Regions from separate parts of the Homo sapiens genome. Here regions 1 and 2 are each linked to region 3. Evidence: fine-mapped expression QTL. A gene starts in region 3. Each other region holds a variant in brackets. All regions are shown on one strand. Distances are between the middles of the regions.

Evidence for each region. PIP is the estimated chance that this variant, and not a neighbour inherited with it, causes the effect. A credible set is the group of variants that fine-mapping cannot tell apart.
Region 1: its variant is the best candidate, but not a certain one, in a credible set for the expression of DHX58 in fibroblasts (GTEx, PIP 0.66).
Region 2: its variant is the best candidate, but not a certain one, in a credible set for the expression of DHX58 in breast (GTEx, PIP 0.66).

The regions. Positions count from the first base shown.
Region 1 is chr17:41,621,547-41,626,745 of GRCh38, forward strand. KRT17 (keratin 17) reads right to left here and starts at 3,029. Exons shown (of 8, transcript NM_000422.3): 1 at 2,532-3,029; 2 at 1,404-1,486; 3 at 809-965; 4 at 47-208. The coding sequence starts at 2,963. It also overlaps the pseudogene KRT42P. The variant A/T (reference allele first, on the strand shown) is at 2,954.
Region 2 is chr17:42,135,216-42,140,429 of GRCh38, forward strand. The region is part of intron 1 of RAB5C (RAB5C, member RAS oncogene family); the gene reads right to left. Among named protein-coding and RNA genes, the nearest start is that of HSPB9, 15 kb to the left of the region's middle. The variant C/T (reference allele first, on the strand shown) is at 2,307.
Region 3 is chr17:42,109,649-42,114,862 of GRCh38, forward strand. It overlaps DHX58 (DExH-box helicase 58), which reads right to left and starts at 3,066. Exons shown (of 14, transcript NM_024119.3): 1 at 2,957-3,066; 2 at 2,465-2,557; 3 at 2,077-2,245; 4 at 1,648-1,849; 5 at 1,075-1,265. The coding sequence starts at 2,244. KAT2A (lysine acetyltransferase 2A) reads right to left here. Exons shown (of 18, transcript NM_021078.3): 14 at 4,842-4,956; 15 at 4,710-4,746; 16 at 4,571-4,634; 17 at 4,352-4,436; 18 at 3,463-4,194. The coding sequence ends at 4,001. RefSeq lists enhancers at 2,574-2,673, 2,914-3,433.

The sequences.
Region 1 (5,199 bases), 490 kb before region 3:
GAGCCCCAGCCCCTAAGAGAGCCCTCTGGCCTGCAGCACCCCCCACCTTGCTGAAGAACCAATCCTCGGCATCCTTGCGGTTCTTCTCTGCCATCTTCTCATACTGGTCACGCATCTCGTTGAGGATGCGGCTCAGGTCCACGCCTGGGGCAGCGTCCATCTCCACATTGATCTCACCACCCACCTGGCCTCGCAGGGCGTTCATCTCCTATGGAAAAAGGGGATGTGGATGTGCGCATCTGGACCCATCCTGACCTCTCACTCCCAAGCCTTCCCCCACAAGGGGACCCCACTTCCCACAAGGACCCCTCCTTTGTTCTCCCTCTGCTCTATCTGACCCTCTAAATGATTTTTATTCATCTGCTCAGTATTGCCTCCACCATCAGACTCTATCTCCCCCATTAGACCAAGGACTCTCCAAAATAAAATCTAATTATTAGGCCTATGCCCCCAAAAGTTCCCCTCTAATTTCCAAGCTTCTATGTAGATGTTCAGCTTTGAGAGTTTGAAATGGGACAAGATTTCCTTACTTATCCCCCACCCTCATGAGGGAGGCAGGGTAGGTAGAGGGAGCCTCTGCAGGCCCCTGGGAGGTTCCTTGTGTACAGAGAAGCAGTGTGGTACAAAGAGGAGTCTGCCCTGCACACTGGACCCCAAGGATCAGGGCTCTGCAGACAGGGAAGCCCTCTAAGGTGACTAATCCCGGTGCACCTGCTCTGCTCTCTCCCACGGCCTCAGCCATTGCCCAGCCCCAGGGCTCTGCCACCCACTCCTCAGCATCTTTGACCTTCTGCCCCAGCCACCTCACCTCCTCGTGGTTCTTCTTCAGGTAGGCCAGCTCCTCCTTGAGGTTCTCAATCTGCATCTCCAGGTCGGCTCTGGCCAGGGTCAGCTCATCCAGCACCCTGCGCAGGCCATTGATGTCGGCCTCCACACTCAGGCGCAGGGCCTGCTCTGTCTCAAACCTGCCGTGGGAATCAGAGACTTCAGCCCAGGCTGCTTGGACCTGCAGATCCAGGTCCTGGCTGCTCACCTGCCTTCATTTTGCCAGGACTCTAAGGAGTTGGAAGGGCTGATGAGAGGGTCGAGTGGAAACGAATTCCAGCCCCGGGACCCCGGGACCATCACAGGGCCAGATCCCACGCCCACCAGCTTCCTTACTTCTCTCTGCCTCCCGCCTCCCGCCTCCCCTCCTTCTCTTCTATTCCCTGCCTAAGCTCAGCAACCTTCAGAACTGGCTGCCTTCACTGCATCCTGGACTAAGGAGTGGGGCTCCTAGGACTGCCCCACCCTGAGCTCCTGGGCCTTGCCACAAGCAACCAAGGAATCCTGGGGTCAGGAGGGGTACCCTGAGATCCTCCGCCAGCTGGCCCAGGCTGCCCAAGGCCACAGCTAGGACTCACTTGGTGCGGAAGTCATCAGCAGCCAGACGGGCATTGTCAATCTGTAGCAGGATGTTGGCATTGTCCACGGTGGCTGTGAGGATCTGAGGAGAAGGGAGAGTAGTCAGGTCATTGGATGGGGGTGGCTGAGCCCACACCAGGGTTCTGAGCAGATCTTCCTGCCTCAGGGCCTCTCTTCTCGCCCAGCCCCTCCCTTGCCCCGTGCTGTATTATTGGCAGAGGAGGGGCAAACAGGAGTCTGAAGGGCTGAAAGGTGCCTCTTCTTCCCCCGATACTCAGTACCCCACCAGACCCCCATGGCAGGCTCGGCCTTAAAGGAGAAGAGACAGCTGGCTGGGAGTATGAGGCAACCAGAAAAGAATGGGAAAATGTCCCCAGGGCAGAAGCTGTCCCAGAATTCTAGAACAAGGGAGGGGATGTGGGCAACCCCCTCGTTTTACAGTCAGCTAGAGGGTGCCCCTGACAGGCTCCCCCAAAAGGAGGCTAAAGGAGCCCTCATTAAAGAGTGGTTCCAAATCAAAAGTCAGGACCCCTCCTAATCCCTAACCCTGGGCGCCAGCCAGCAGCCCCGCCCCCTGGGGTTTGCTGAGCCCGTCTTAAGGGACAGCAGGAGGAAAGGAGAAGCCAGAAAAATCCCCAAATAAGGCACATCAGAGGCCTTCCCCACACTGAGGTCCCGCCCCCTCCTTTCTGCCTCCTCCTGCAGCAGGTGCTATCAGGAGCTCACTCAGACACCCCCACTCCACATCACCCAAAACCCCCTCCTGTTGACCCCTGCTCCAAAGGAGCAAGACACCACACATCCAGCAGCCCACGGGCCCAGCCCTCCATCTGCATCCTCCTGCCTCATCCTACAACCTCTCCAGGTGGCGGAGCTCCACGAGGGAGAAACTGAGGCTCCAAGGGGCTCCACAAGGCCTCTTTGTTCCTGACTCAGCTTGCTGTCCCCAGAAAAGGGGGATGTGAGCCACACAGGGGCCCCAAGGCAGGTTCCCAGAAGCTAAGCCACAGCCAAACCACCCTTGGCTCCCTGAGACCCTATGGCTGGACTCCAGGCCTTTGGCCAAGGCAGGAGTTGGGGGGAAGAAGTCATGCCCCCCGGAGACCCCTCCCACCAGCAGGCCCTACCTTGTTCTGCAGCTCCTCAATTGTCCTGTAGTACTGGCTGTAGTCACGGGCGGGCCCCGGGGCCTGCCTCTGGTACCAGTCACGGATCTTCACCTCCAGCTCAGTGTTGGCCTCCTCCAGGGCACGCACCTTGTCCAGGTAGGAGGCCAGGCGGTCATTGAGGTTCTGCATGGTGGCCTTCTCACCTCCAGCCAGCAGCCCATCAACACCCCCAAAGCTGCTGCCATAGCCACCACCAGAGCCAAAGCTGTAGCAGCTGGAGTAGCTGCTACCCCCGAGGGTGCTGCCCAGGCCGCCAGCAGATCCCAGCCTGCAGGAGCCGGCACCCAGGCCGCCAGACAGCCGGCAGGAGGTGCGGGACGAGCCGCCCCCCAGGCCGGAGGAGCCCTTGATGGAGCTGGAGGAGGTGAACTGGCGGATGG[A/T]GGTGGTCATGGTGGCGGCGGCAGGAGGCAGGCACACAGGAGAAGGGCTGGAGAGGAGAGGGGCCCCAAGTTGTGTAGGGCTGCCGGGGTTCGCCCGCTTCCTTTATAGGCCACCAAGTGGGCGTAGCGATTACAACAGGCTTGCTCCTCTGTTTCCATTCCCCTGGGCTTTCATCACCACTGGCCACCTGCCAGCTCCCAGGTGGCTGGGGGCCCCCTCCCCGCCCATCATCAGGAATTTGCCTCATTTCTCCAAATCCTCGTGCTGAGTGCCGTGCGTGTGCGTGCCTCTGGTCTCAGGCCCGTCACCTGTGATTCAGGCGGGCCCTCCAGCTATGCTTTCCCATGACCTAATACGGAGAAGAGGAGAAGGCAGGACGTCACCGTCCCCAGGCCCTCCCAGGCAGCCACCACCCCAGCCTGGCCCGCCTCAACCCTGTCTGGTGGGGAAATGGGTTGCAGTGTCAGCTGACCCCCCCGCCAAAGTTGCTGTCTTTCACCCCACACTGCTCCACCCACGGTGCTGGCCCCGGGGCTGGGTGCTGAAGAGAAAGAGGAGACCGAGAGCCTATCCTGCCTTGGAAACTGAGCCCAAACCCACCAGGCCCACCTCACAGCATAGAAATGCCATCAAGCCTCGGAGACCAACCCACATCACAGATAAAGAAATTGGGGCTCCAGAGGGGTGCCGTGTCCACACTGGCCCCTTCTGCAGAGCCTGACACCCAGGAATGCACTCTAGGGGCTACAGTTCCATCCAGTCAGCTTCTGACCCTGCCCCATCCCTAGAAATCCTTGCTAACCCAGTCTCTTCGTGTAAACCTTTCCCCAGGTTTACACTCCAGGCTGGGGTGGGCAAACAGGGGCTCAGCTATAGGATGGGGAAATGGTGGGCTGTGCCAACTGAGAGGGGGATGCCCCCTTCCACTCCCCTCACCCTTCTGTACCCCAAGAGACCTCAGGGTCAGGTGACGGGTATTTATCTCAGGTCTCAGCCCACAGGAAACCTAAAGGACATTGCCCAAGAAGAGGCTCTTACAGAGACCCCAGCCAGCCCCCTTCCCACTCCAGGCTCCCCAAGATGTGGCTCCTCAGGTGGGCCATGTGCCCCACCCCACAGCCCCACCCTGCCCTGCCCACCACCCCAAGCCCGGCCCTGGGTCCCAGGGTCCCGCCAGGCCCGCTGGGTGGAATGTGGTCATGTTTCAGACTGCCGATGGCTTCCACTTCCCAGACAGGCCCAGACGGCCCCGCCAGCAGCCGAGAGACATTCCTCAATAGCCCAGTGGCTGCCAAGCCACCAAAGCAAACAGGATGCCCCCTACGCGTACACGCACAGCGGCCACCCCGCCCCACACACACCCCGAGCTGGGGCAGAGCCGGTCTGGTTTCCTGGGCTGGCTGCGTCACTGCCATGCCCTCTCACTCATCAATGCCATGGACCACTCCTTCAGAAGCCCCTCCCCACCAAGCCCCTCTCCTTCTGCTCTTGAACCCGCCCTGGGCTGAGGCAGGGAGTGCTCCCCAACAGGCACCATCCTTGGAAAGTCTGTGTGGCCCTCCCAGGGACCAGCCACAGGTGACAGGGACTCAGGGGCTGATTCTTAGAAACTTTTCCCAATACAAGGGGCTGTCCCATCCCTCCACCCTTAATCTTTCCGCCTCCTCCCCTCTCATCTTTCCAGGAGCCCCAGGCCTGGATGGAGTGGGCAGAACAGATTGGCAGGTGACAAGCCCATACCCAAACACTCAATAAACTCCACCTCCCCCAGTCCCTCAGCCCACACTGCCCCAAACCAATGAGCAGATCAGATCACACGAGGCATTGAACTTGGAGCAAAGCTTTAATAGTAGGCACTGGACAAACCCAGGAGGCCTCCTCAGTGAGGGGCTGCAGAAAGTAGATACAGAAAGACAACAGGCCATGCACCGGGGCCCAGACGGACACTCGGGGCGTGGCAGTAGCATGCTGGGAGCTGGAGCTGATGGCTGTGCCGTGGCCCTCGAGGTGGGGCTGTCGCAGACAGAAAGGGGTCTCAGTGGGTGGAGAAGTGGACCTGCTCACAGAAGAAGACCACCTCTCCAACCTGGACTTCCTCCACGATGGCACACCTGGTGGCTGGTCACTGTGGCTGCAGGCGATGGAGGAGGGAGGCACAGGGAACATCAGGCAGGAGCTCTTCCCCCCGCCTGCCCCCGCGTCTGTGGTCCCCCCAGTCTCCCACACAGAAGGGTCCTCAGCCTCT
Region 2 (5,214 bases), 26 kb after region 3:
TCAACCTCCAAAAGTGCTGGGATTACAGGTGTGAGCCACCTGTAATTTTTTTTTTTTTTTTTTGGAGATAGAGTCTCACTGTTGCCCAGGCTAGAGCAGTGATGCAATCACGATTCACTGCAGCCTTGACCTCCCAGGCTCAAGTGATCCTTCTATTTCAGCCTCCAGTCAAACTCTTCTTCACCAGAATCACCCAGGGCCTTTAGAAAATACCCTGACCAACTGAATTAGAATCTCTAGAGGTGGAGTCCAGAAATCAGTATTTTAAAAATAAGTTCCCAGTGATTTTAAGCAGTTGATCGAAGCACAAGAGCTACAGTTGATATACGAAGGAGGGAGAAATCCAAGAGACAGAAAGGCACCCCCGATCAGTGCTGTGCACAACTCGTAAGTGTGCATGTGTAAGTCCATGAATGTGGGAGGGGTCTTCAGCTTCACTCAGCAACTGGAGCCTTCTCCAAGACACTAGATGCTGCTGCAATTCCTCCCCCTAACCTCCCTTTGAAAGTTTCACCTTTCCTCTAATCCACGAAGTCACCCACTTCATATGTTTTGTCCTTCCTGGTAAAAGGGTGAGCAATTCCAGCTGATGAGTGTCTCGTGTACTTCCTGTTTGCTTTAGAGACTTCCTCTAGCTGAGAGTCCTGGCACAGCCTGGAGAGCAAGCTGATTAGGGAAACCAATCAGACTGTTGACCAGGGCAGGCGGGGCGTAGAGACTAGCTCACTCAAGGTTAGCCAGGTGGCCTGAGAACCAAGTGACCCCGCCCAGGGTCCCCTGCAGGTGCTTCTGACCAGTGACTCTTCAGCTACATTTTACCCCGGAAAAGGGCATTCCTGAATATTTAAACAAGAGTCCAGCAAAACAAAACAAAATCAAACCAAAAAAACAACAGCAGAAAGGAGTTGTTAAAGAAAATGGAGCAAGAGACACAGGAGGAAGTAACTCGGTTCAAAGGCTAAAGTGGAAGACATTTGATTTAAAAGCCAACTGGAGTCAAGGTTTTGCAAATGCTTCCCAGGCTCCGATTAGTTGGGGAGATGATTTACCCATAGGCTCAAGAACACAGCTCTTCCTCAAAAGGGAAAACCACTGCCAGCACACAGAAACAGAGGACAGACTCACAGCAGGACTATCCAGGCTTCTAGCTGGTTGCAGACCCAGAGGAAAGAAGAATCTGAAGCAACGCCAGCCACGATCCACACGAGGTACCCACAACCTTCCCCAGCGTGGCTAGCAGGTTAGGACTTGGGAGGCTGAGCCGGGTTTGGTTCAAGCTCCACTCCACCGTTTATTAGCCGTGTGACCTTGGCCAAGTCACACAAGTGATCATTATCAGCTTCAGTTCCTTATCTAAAAATTGGTATTCTTTAATACTAATTGCATGGGGTAGTTCAGATCAAGTGAAACAATGCACCACAGTATCAGGCTGAAGGTGAGCTTTCAACAAGTGGCAGGTTTATTACCCCAGAGGCTAGAATTGGTAGTCAGAGCCCAAAAGGGCCTTAAAGACCCCATCCTACTGTTGACAATTAAAGAAAAAAAATGAAGGTGAGGAGAAGTGACCTGCCTAGGGTCACACAGCCAGCTAGCTGGTGGCAGAGCCCAAGCCTGCCCAAGACTCATAACTCAAGCAAGGCTCTCCTATTAGAGATAGAAAGAAAAACCCCAGAATATTAACAATCTCATTACCATAACCCCTGTTACTAAAAATAACAGGGACTGCGACCTTCTATGCATGTTTTTAAAAAATGTAGCTTTTAGCTAGGAAAAAATGAGTTTCTATCAAACTGAAAAAAGCACATTGCCGCCGGGTGAGGTGGCTCATGCCTGTAATCCCAGCACTTTGGGAGGCTGAGGTGGGTGGATCACCTGAGGTCAGGAGTTGGAGACCAGCCTGTCCAACCTGGTGAAACCCCGACTGTACTAAAAATACAAAAATTAGCTGGGTGTGGTGGCTGGCACCTGTAATCCCAGCTACTTGGGAGGCTGAGGCAGGAGAATCACTTGAACCCAGGAGACAGAGGTTGTGGTGAGCGAAGATCGCACCATTGCACTCCAGCCTGGACAACAGAGCGAGACACTGTCTCAAAAAAAAGAAAAAAAAAAAAAAGCACACTGCTGGATGGAGGAGTTATAACTTGATTTGAGAGGTAAATACATGAGTGTATAATAATATAAAAACCCATCGAGCTGTATTTACAATTTGTAAACTATTATACATAAGTCACATGTCAATAAAAAGGTTAAAAAATGCTGCTGGTATAGAATTTTGCATATAATCATGAAAAGTTAAAGCTTGGAAA[C/T]GATATGAATGCAATCTAGCTCCTCTGTATATAAAATATTTTCTGCCTCTTTAGTATGAAGAAAATAATATTAAAGACAATCAAGGGCCGGGCACGGTGGCTCACGCCTATAATCCCAGCGCTTTGGGAGGCTGAGGCGGGTGGATCATGAGGTCAAGAGATCGACACCATCCCGGCCAACATGGTGAAACCCCGTCTCTACTAAAAATACAAAAATTAGCTGGGCGTGGTGGCGCATACCTGTAGTCCCAGCTACTCGGGAGGCTGAGGCAGGAGAATCGCTTGAACCCGGGAGGCAGAGGTTGCACTGAGCTGAGATAGTGCCACTGCACTCCGGCCTGGCGAGAGAGCGAGACTCTGTCTCAAAAAAAAAAAAGACAATCAAAAAGATGATACCTGAATTGGAAAAGACCAACGGAGAACAAAGATACCCAAATGTTAAACACAAATAAGGTGCAAGACAATGGGATTCCTCATAAAAAATAAGATTCCCACATATATATTAAGGATATATTTACTGTTTGGGCTTAACTGTGGGCTAAAGGATTTTCAAGTGGTTTAAAGCTTCACAATAATAAAGAGAAACTGATATTTATGTCTTTTCGATGGGGAGAAAGAGGTTATAACAGTATGATATTCTCCACTCCCCAACCAGTCTAGAGTATATCTGCAGAGGAAAGGGGGGTTTAGGGGTTGGGGGATGGAATCAAAGAGAAGGGTGTCCTCTGTGTGACCAGGCCTATGGAACTGCTTCACACAGGGCCTGTGTCTTACCTAAGAGTCTAACAGGGGAAGCTTGGCCCTGGCCCTGGAAGCCAGAAGCTTAAGAGCCCAGGGTGAGATCTAGCCGAATCCCAATGGGGGGTGTTGCAACAGGGTGGGCTCCACCTCCCACCTTCAGGAGGTCCAGCTCTTAAACCTAGACTTGGGGGAGGCAGCAGTAGGGAGGAAGGTGCTGCCTTTCCACAGCCACAGGAAGATGACCCTTTTTCCAGCGGAAAGGGAAGTAAATTATCCCAGAGGGGCACTGAAGGTGAGCTGGGTCCCCTTCCACAGGGAAAGCACCCCCACCTTCCTTAACTGAGATTGGTTTCATTTCATTCTTTTTTCAATAAGATTTCTGAGGCTTAGTGCCTAGACTTCCACACCACAATCAGGCCCTGATGGGGTCCACCAGAGCCCCAAGTGCAGACACCAACTCCACCAATACCTGCAAAAGGGGCCAGTGTGCAGAGGCATCAAGAGGCTTAAAGCCTGGATACACATTACCAAGTGATCTTTAATAAACACTATGCAGACTGAGCCTGGAACTTTGCTGAAGTCAGCCAGGACAGAGCACAGCTGGCTCCTGCAGCCCTTTCCCTTGTGTGGGAAGTCTTGTATCACTTAGGACAGATGCCAAGCTCACTCGGGTGGAAGACACCCCTGAGGGACAGACCCTTAGCTTTCCAGGACTCTACCCCAGCAGAACACCATGAAATCCTTCCCTGATCCCTGAGCTTCTTCCCAGCTCTCAATGACAGATGGGTTCTCTGGAGAGGCTCAGAGAGGAGCAGTCAGGGCTGGATGGAAACCTCCAGCATCCACTCCCTCTTTCTGCACCCACAGGGAGGAAGACTATTGGGGTGGGAGGACATCTCCATGGATCTGCTAGCACAGCTTGGCCAGTGTGGTCGGCCAGTGCTGTCCACAGAAGGGCCCCAGGCTTCATGGGCAGCTCAACAACTCTCAGTCATTGGCCCTGCTGGCCAACAGAGGAGACAGGTAGCACGGAAGGCCCACAGACAGGGCACTGCCTGCAGCTGCACCAGGCAAGGCTCTCCGCCAGCCTACCGATTCCAAAAGGCACCAGGGGGGCCAGGCCCTAACGCTGACATTCCTGAGACTGTTCTCCCTAAGAGGGCCCAGTGTCTAACAGCACACCTCAGTCAGCAAGGTTGTGGCAGATTCTTTTTTTTTGAGACGGAATCTTGCTCTGTCACCCAGGTTGGAGTGCAGTGGCGTGATCTCGGCTCACTGCAACCTCCAGCTCCCAGGTTCAAGCAATTCTGCCTCAGCCTCCTGAGTAGCTAGGACTACATACGCGTGCCACCACATCCAGCTAATTTTTTGTATTTTTTAGTAGAGATGGGGTTTCACCATGTTAGTCAGGATGGTCTCGATTTCCTGACCTTGTGATCCAGGCTGTGCCAGATTCTCTACTCCTGTCTAGGGCTGCTCTCTCAAGCCTCAAGCAAAAGCTCAACTTGGAATCTTTCTGCAGCCCAGAACCACACACACGTCCCAGCCACAGGGCTTGTTAGGGATGACAACATGGCTGTATGGTGGCTCACACGCCACCAGTCAGTTCTTCACCTGCCAATGCCAGGCAGGATGCTAGGAAGAGTGCCATCCAAGGCAAAGGTTCTTCTGGCCCCAGCCTACCCCAACTATCCTGTATTTCATTTGTTCAGGCAGTTACTATTTAGCTAGGACATTTCTCACCGGAATCTCATCAATGTAGGGCCCGTCTTCCCCCCGTCTCAAAAGGGGCTCTGCAGGGGTCAGAAGCACCAGCCAGGACAGCTGCCACTTCTGCTGCTTCCCTAGGCCCAGAAAGACTCCAGAAACCTCTGCTGAAAGTCAGGATCAGAAGCAGCACCTGTTCATCCAGCCACTCACACCAGCGGACACCTCTCCAAAACCCTTCCCGCCCTTACAAATAACAGAAAACAAAAGAAAGCCAGTTTAAATCACTGCCCCTTTGTTTTGCCTTCAGCTCCTAAACAGAGAGCAGAGGTCAAGTTTGAGAGGAAAGTGGGAGAAAAGAGAAATAGCAATCCAAATGCCTCCTGTTCAGACACCACACACACCGTGGTCAGCGGCTATGCAACCAACAAGAAAAAAGTCAAAGTTCTCAGTGGGAGAC
Region 3 (5,214 bases):
ACTTTGGGAGGCCAAGGCGGGCGGGTCACCTGAGGTCAGGAGTTTGAGACAGCCTGGCCAACGTGGTGAAACCCCACCTCTACTAAAAATACAAAAATTAGCCAGGCATGGTGGCACGCGCCTGTAGTCTCAGCTACTCGGGAGGCTGAGACAGAAGAATCACTTGAACCCGGGAGGTGGAGGTTGCAGTGAGCCAAGATCGTGCCACTGCACTCCAGCCTGGGTAACAGAGACTCCGTCTCAAAAAAAAAAAAAGAGGCTGGGCACAGTGGCTCACGCCTGTAATCCCAGCACTATGGGAGGCCAAGGCAGGTGAATCACGAGGTCAGGAGTTCGAGACCAGCATGGCCAACACGGTGAAACCCCGTCTCTACTAAAAATACAAAAAATTAGCTGGGCATAGTGGTGGGTGCCTGTAATCCCAGCTACTCGGGAGGCTGAGGCAGGAGAATCGCTTGAACCTGGGAGGCGGAGGTTGCAGGGAGCCGAAATCATGCCACTGCCCTCCAGCCTGGGCGACAGAGTGAGACTCCATCTCAAAAAAAAAAAAAAAAAAGAAAACAATAAAACCTTGCAGAGCGCATTAACAAGCTCTGAAGAGGATAGCACTGGATGATATGACAGAGAGCAGAGATCAGGGAGGACTTTCAAGAGGTGGCATTAAGCTGTTCAATGAATGACAAGGAGGAGGCAGCAGGAAAAGTTCAAAGGGAAGCGCATTCTAGGCAAAAGAAATGGTAAATGCAAAGGTCCCCGAGATGGAACAAGCCCTACATGTTCAACATGCAGAAGGCAGGCCAGTGTAACTGTAGGATGAGCTACAACAGGGAGGGCGCAGGAAATGAGGTGGAGAGGTAGATCACGTGGAACTTTGTAAACCACAGTAGAGTCGGGAGTTAATTCTTTGTACCATAAGAAACCATTGGAGGCTGGGTCTTAGGTGAGGAAGGGGCCAGACCCTGCCATGGAGAGCCTGGTAGGGCTGGTGGGGACGGGGTAGTGGCAGGGCAGGCAGGGAGGGAGGGAAGTCCCTGGTGGGTCTGGCAGTGGGAGGCCCACAGGGGCCAGGCTGACCTGCAGGACGTGGTTGATGGCCCCATCGAGTTTGGAGGCCCCGCCAGTGCCTGGGGAGGCTGTGAGACCCAGCACCTGGGGTAGCGGCTGTGCCCTCTGGAGTTTAAGTTCTAGGTACTGGCTCATGATGACGTTGTAGACGGTGTCCTTGTGCGTGTGGTGGCACTCATCCACCACGATCAGGGAGAAGACTGAGGGCACAGGGGGGAAGGCTGTGACCTATGTTTGCAAAGCCCTTCCTCCCATCAGCTTTCAAGTAGTCCCCACAATGATGTAAGAATTCCTTCTTCCCTTCACAACCTGCAGCTGGTCCCAGGATGAGGAGCCAGGCAGGGAAGACTTCTTTCCATTTCACAGATTAGTAAACCGAGGCTCAGCTGGGGAAGGGACTGGCCTAAGATCCTACACGATAGCCCGGCCTGTTTCTACTAGAGTGCCTGCAGGGGTTTTGTGAACAGGCAACCCCTCACTCCCACTAAAACTCCCAACACCTTGACTCCAGGAGGTGCCCTGGGGTTGGCGAAAGGAGGTACCCCAGATGCGTATCTTTTTCCTCCCGGCCATGGCCCTCACCAGTGAGCTCCACGTGCTCCTCCTCCTCGGGGCTGGTCAGTGCCATCTGCAGAAGCTCTGCTGTGCAGATGAGCAGGTCATGGCACCGGGCCAGGTGGCCAAAGCCAGCACGTGGTCCCATGTCCCCACTCAGGGTTGTCACGGTCCAGCGTCCATCCAGCATGCGCCTGAACTCTTCACCATGCTGGGTCACCAGGTGCACCTGGGGGTGGAGAATGAGCTGGGAAAAGAGAGCTGAATCTGGGGCCAGGGGTAGGGAGGCGGTAAGGTGACCCGCAGGACATGGCTGGGTACTGAGCCAGGGTGGAAAGACAGGTGAGCTTAGCGATGGCCACAGCAGCTTTGGAGTTCTGGTGGGGACTGGGAGATGCCTGAAGAGCTAAGACCCTGCTTGGTGGTGGGAGAGCGGGGTAGGGACAGACCACTCACCCTGTTGACCAATACAACCACCTTGGCTCCATCCACAGTCTCTAGGTGCCGCTTGGCCACATAAGCAGCCGCCCGGGTCTTCCCGGCACCCGTGGGCAGCCAGATGATGATATTCTTGCCCTCCAGGGCAGGCATGATCACCTCCCATTGGTAGGACCGAAGCTCCATTCTGGGAATGGCAGGGGACTCAGACCCACCGACTCCTCCACCCCTCCCAACTCCTGGCCAGACCAGTCAGTACAGAGACCTCCCTTTGCCCAGGACTCCACCCCACTTGAGGGAGGTGGGGCAGGACTCCCTCAGAACCCATCAGGACCCTGCTCTGCCCAAAAGGGGGAGGCGGGAGTAACACAGGCTACACCTGCCCCCTGCCCAGCCCAGGACTCACCTGCTCTAGTAGGTAGGTCTGCCCAGGGCAGTCCCACTTAACTCAGCCTGGTGCCACTCTGCTCAGCTCAGAGACCCAAGATGGAAACTGAAACTGAGGGAAGGAGCCAGCTGAGCCGACTTAGGAATCTCCCATCCCCGCCCCAGGAAAAAGAACCAAGAGAAAAGAACCGTTTGTGCTAACAGTCATCGCCAACTGCCGTGAGTACAAACTCCGGTTAAGTACTGCTGCTGCGCCAGCGCCCTGGCAGGCATGATCACCTCCCATTGGTAGGGCCACAGCTCCATTCTGGGAATGGCAGGGGACTCAGACCCACTGGGCCCTCCACTCATCCCAACTCCTGGCCAGAGCAGTCGGTACAGAGACCTCCCTTTGCCCAGGACTCCACCCCACTTGAGGGAGGTGGGGGGGGGGACACCCTCAAAACTCATCAGAAGCCTGCTGTGGCCAAAAGGTGGGGGTGGGGGGGGGTGGGAGTAACACAGGCTACACCTGCGCCTTGCCCAGCCTGGGTCTCGCCTGCACCACCACGTAGGCCTGCCCAAGGCGGCCCTGCTTAGCTCAGCCTGGTGCCGCTGTGCTCAGCGCAGAGAGCAGAAATCAGAAATGGAAACTGAAACTGAGGGGAGGAGCCAGCTGAGCCGACTTACGAATCTCCTATCCCTGCCCCAAGAAAAAGAACCACGTGTGCTAACAGGGAAGCACTCTTTCAGTGCTACAGGATCCTCTACGCTCTGGCCCTTCTGCAGTCAGTTGTAACCACATCCACCCAGGTTAAGGTGAAGGCAGGAGGTTCTGACCCCTGCTGCCCTGGCATCTGGATCAGGAGCAGCCTGGAGGAGGGAGAGGTGGGGGGCTGCAGGCAGGTAGGACCCATCACCCCAGGAGCACAGGACCAGGCCTGAGGCTTGCTGGGGAGAGCAGCCTCCAGTTTGCAAGAGGTCCCTGGGGGCCAAGGTGAGCCTGCTAAGGCTGGGACTACACCAAAGAAACAATCACACAGAGAAATAAAAAGCTTTATTATTCCCTCTAAGGGATTAATGCCAGGGAATGAATGGTCCCCATACCCCCCACCCCTGGGGGAGACTGACAGAACAGTGCTGGACAAGGCATGGCCCCCTTCAGTTTGGGCTGAACTTCCAACCCCTGAAGCCATCACTCAAGCTAAAATGAGCAGTTCTGGTCCTCAGGGAAACAGCCACCTGGGCCAGGCCCAGGAATCCAAGCCTCCAAAGCTCTTGGGGACCAGGCCTGGGGGCCACCACGGCTGGGCAAGGTTCATCCCTGGCCACCAGCTACTCTAGAGGGGCTGGGCCCCAACCCAGGAGACCTCTCACACACAGTGAAGGCTGGGACAGAGCTGCACGCTTGGGGGTGCCTGAAGGTCCAGAAAGAGCTGCAGGATCGGGTCCGGAGGACCCTTGGCTGGAGTGTCTCAAGCTGAGTCGGGTCCGTGGGGCCAGGGCACCCCCTAAGGATCAGATCAGAATCCGAGGTGGAGACATTCCAGGTCAGGGCTGCGGCCCAAAGATGGGCCTACTTGTCAATGAGGCCTCCCTCCTTGAGCTTGAAGTAGAAGAACTTCTCCAGGGCGCTGGCACAGCGGCAGTACTCGCTGTCCGGGGGGTTGTACTCGCGACAGTTGGCGATGACCCGCTGCAGGTCGGCCACAAAGAGCTTCCGGGTCACGTAGTAGCGGCTTCGCAGCCGCTCAGTCATGGTCTTCAGGTCTGGGGCAGCAGGAGACGGAGCACAGCTTTAAGAGGCTGAAGACCACGGCAGGGCTGTCCACCAGGGTGGGCCCCCTGGGGCTGCAGGGCGCAGTGAGGGCAGGAGCAGGTGTGGGGACAGAAGAGGAGGGAAGGGGATGGAATGGAAGGTCCTCACCAATGGGGAAGCGGATGACCTCGTAGTAGTCAGGGGCCTCCGACTTCTTCACAGGCTCCATGAAGGGCCAGGCACTGGGGTGAGACTGGAGAGAAGAGCCGGGCTGGGGACAGCCCTGCTGCGCCCACGCCAGCCCGAGACCACTACCCACCCCACACTGCATCAAGAGGCCACAGCCATTGGTGCAGGGGCCCTGGAAAGGAAACCTGGTCTCCCCACCTTGATTTGGGCCAGCAGGTTTTTGAGGGTTGTGTAGAGCTGGTCGGGGTCCTTCAGCTCCTTCCTGGGGCGAGAGACACCAAGTCTGAGGCTCCAAGTCCCTCTGCCCCACCCCCAACCCGGCTCCTTTGACACTCACCCCTTCTCCTTCCCCAATGGCTTCCAGCCTGTCTCTCCTGCAAAGTGGGAAGTGGGAGAATGTCTCTAAGAATGCCAGTCCACACCCCAAGCATCGTGCCCCCACTACCCTGCAACTGAGACCCCTGCTTACGAATGCCAGGAACGCTCTCCACAGGGATCTGCCTCACGCCCTCCTTGAAGCAGCTGAGCCCCGGGTAGACCTTGCGGATCTGGGCCTGTTTGCGCTCAATCAGCTTCTTGATGATCTGAGGGAAGGAAGGGACTGAGGGGCCAACTCCAGCCCCAACAACAACCCCTCCCAGGGCCACAGTCGGAGCCACTGGCTGCACCCACCCAGCTGCAACGCCACCTAATCCAGCACCTCCCCTCATAACTTCCCCAAGGGAGCAGAGCAAGAGCCAAGATCCTGGCCTGCCCCTCCTCACTCACACACATATATGCATGTAGACGTAGAACAGGTCTACACACGTGTGCTCGCCCTCTGCATGCCCATTCATGAAAAA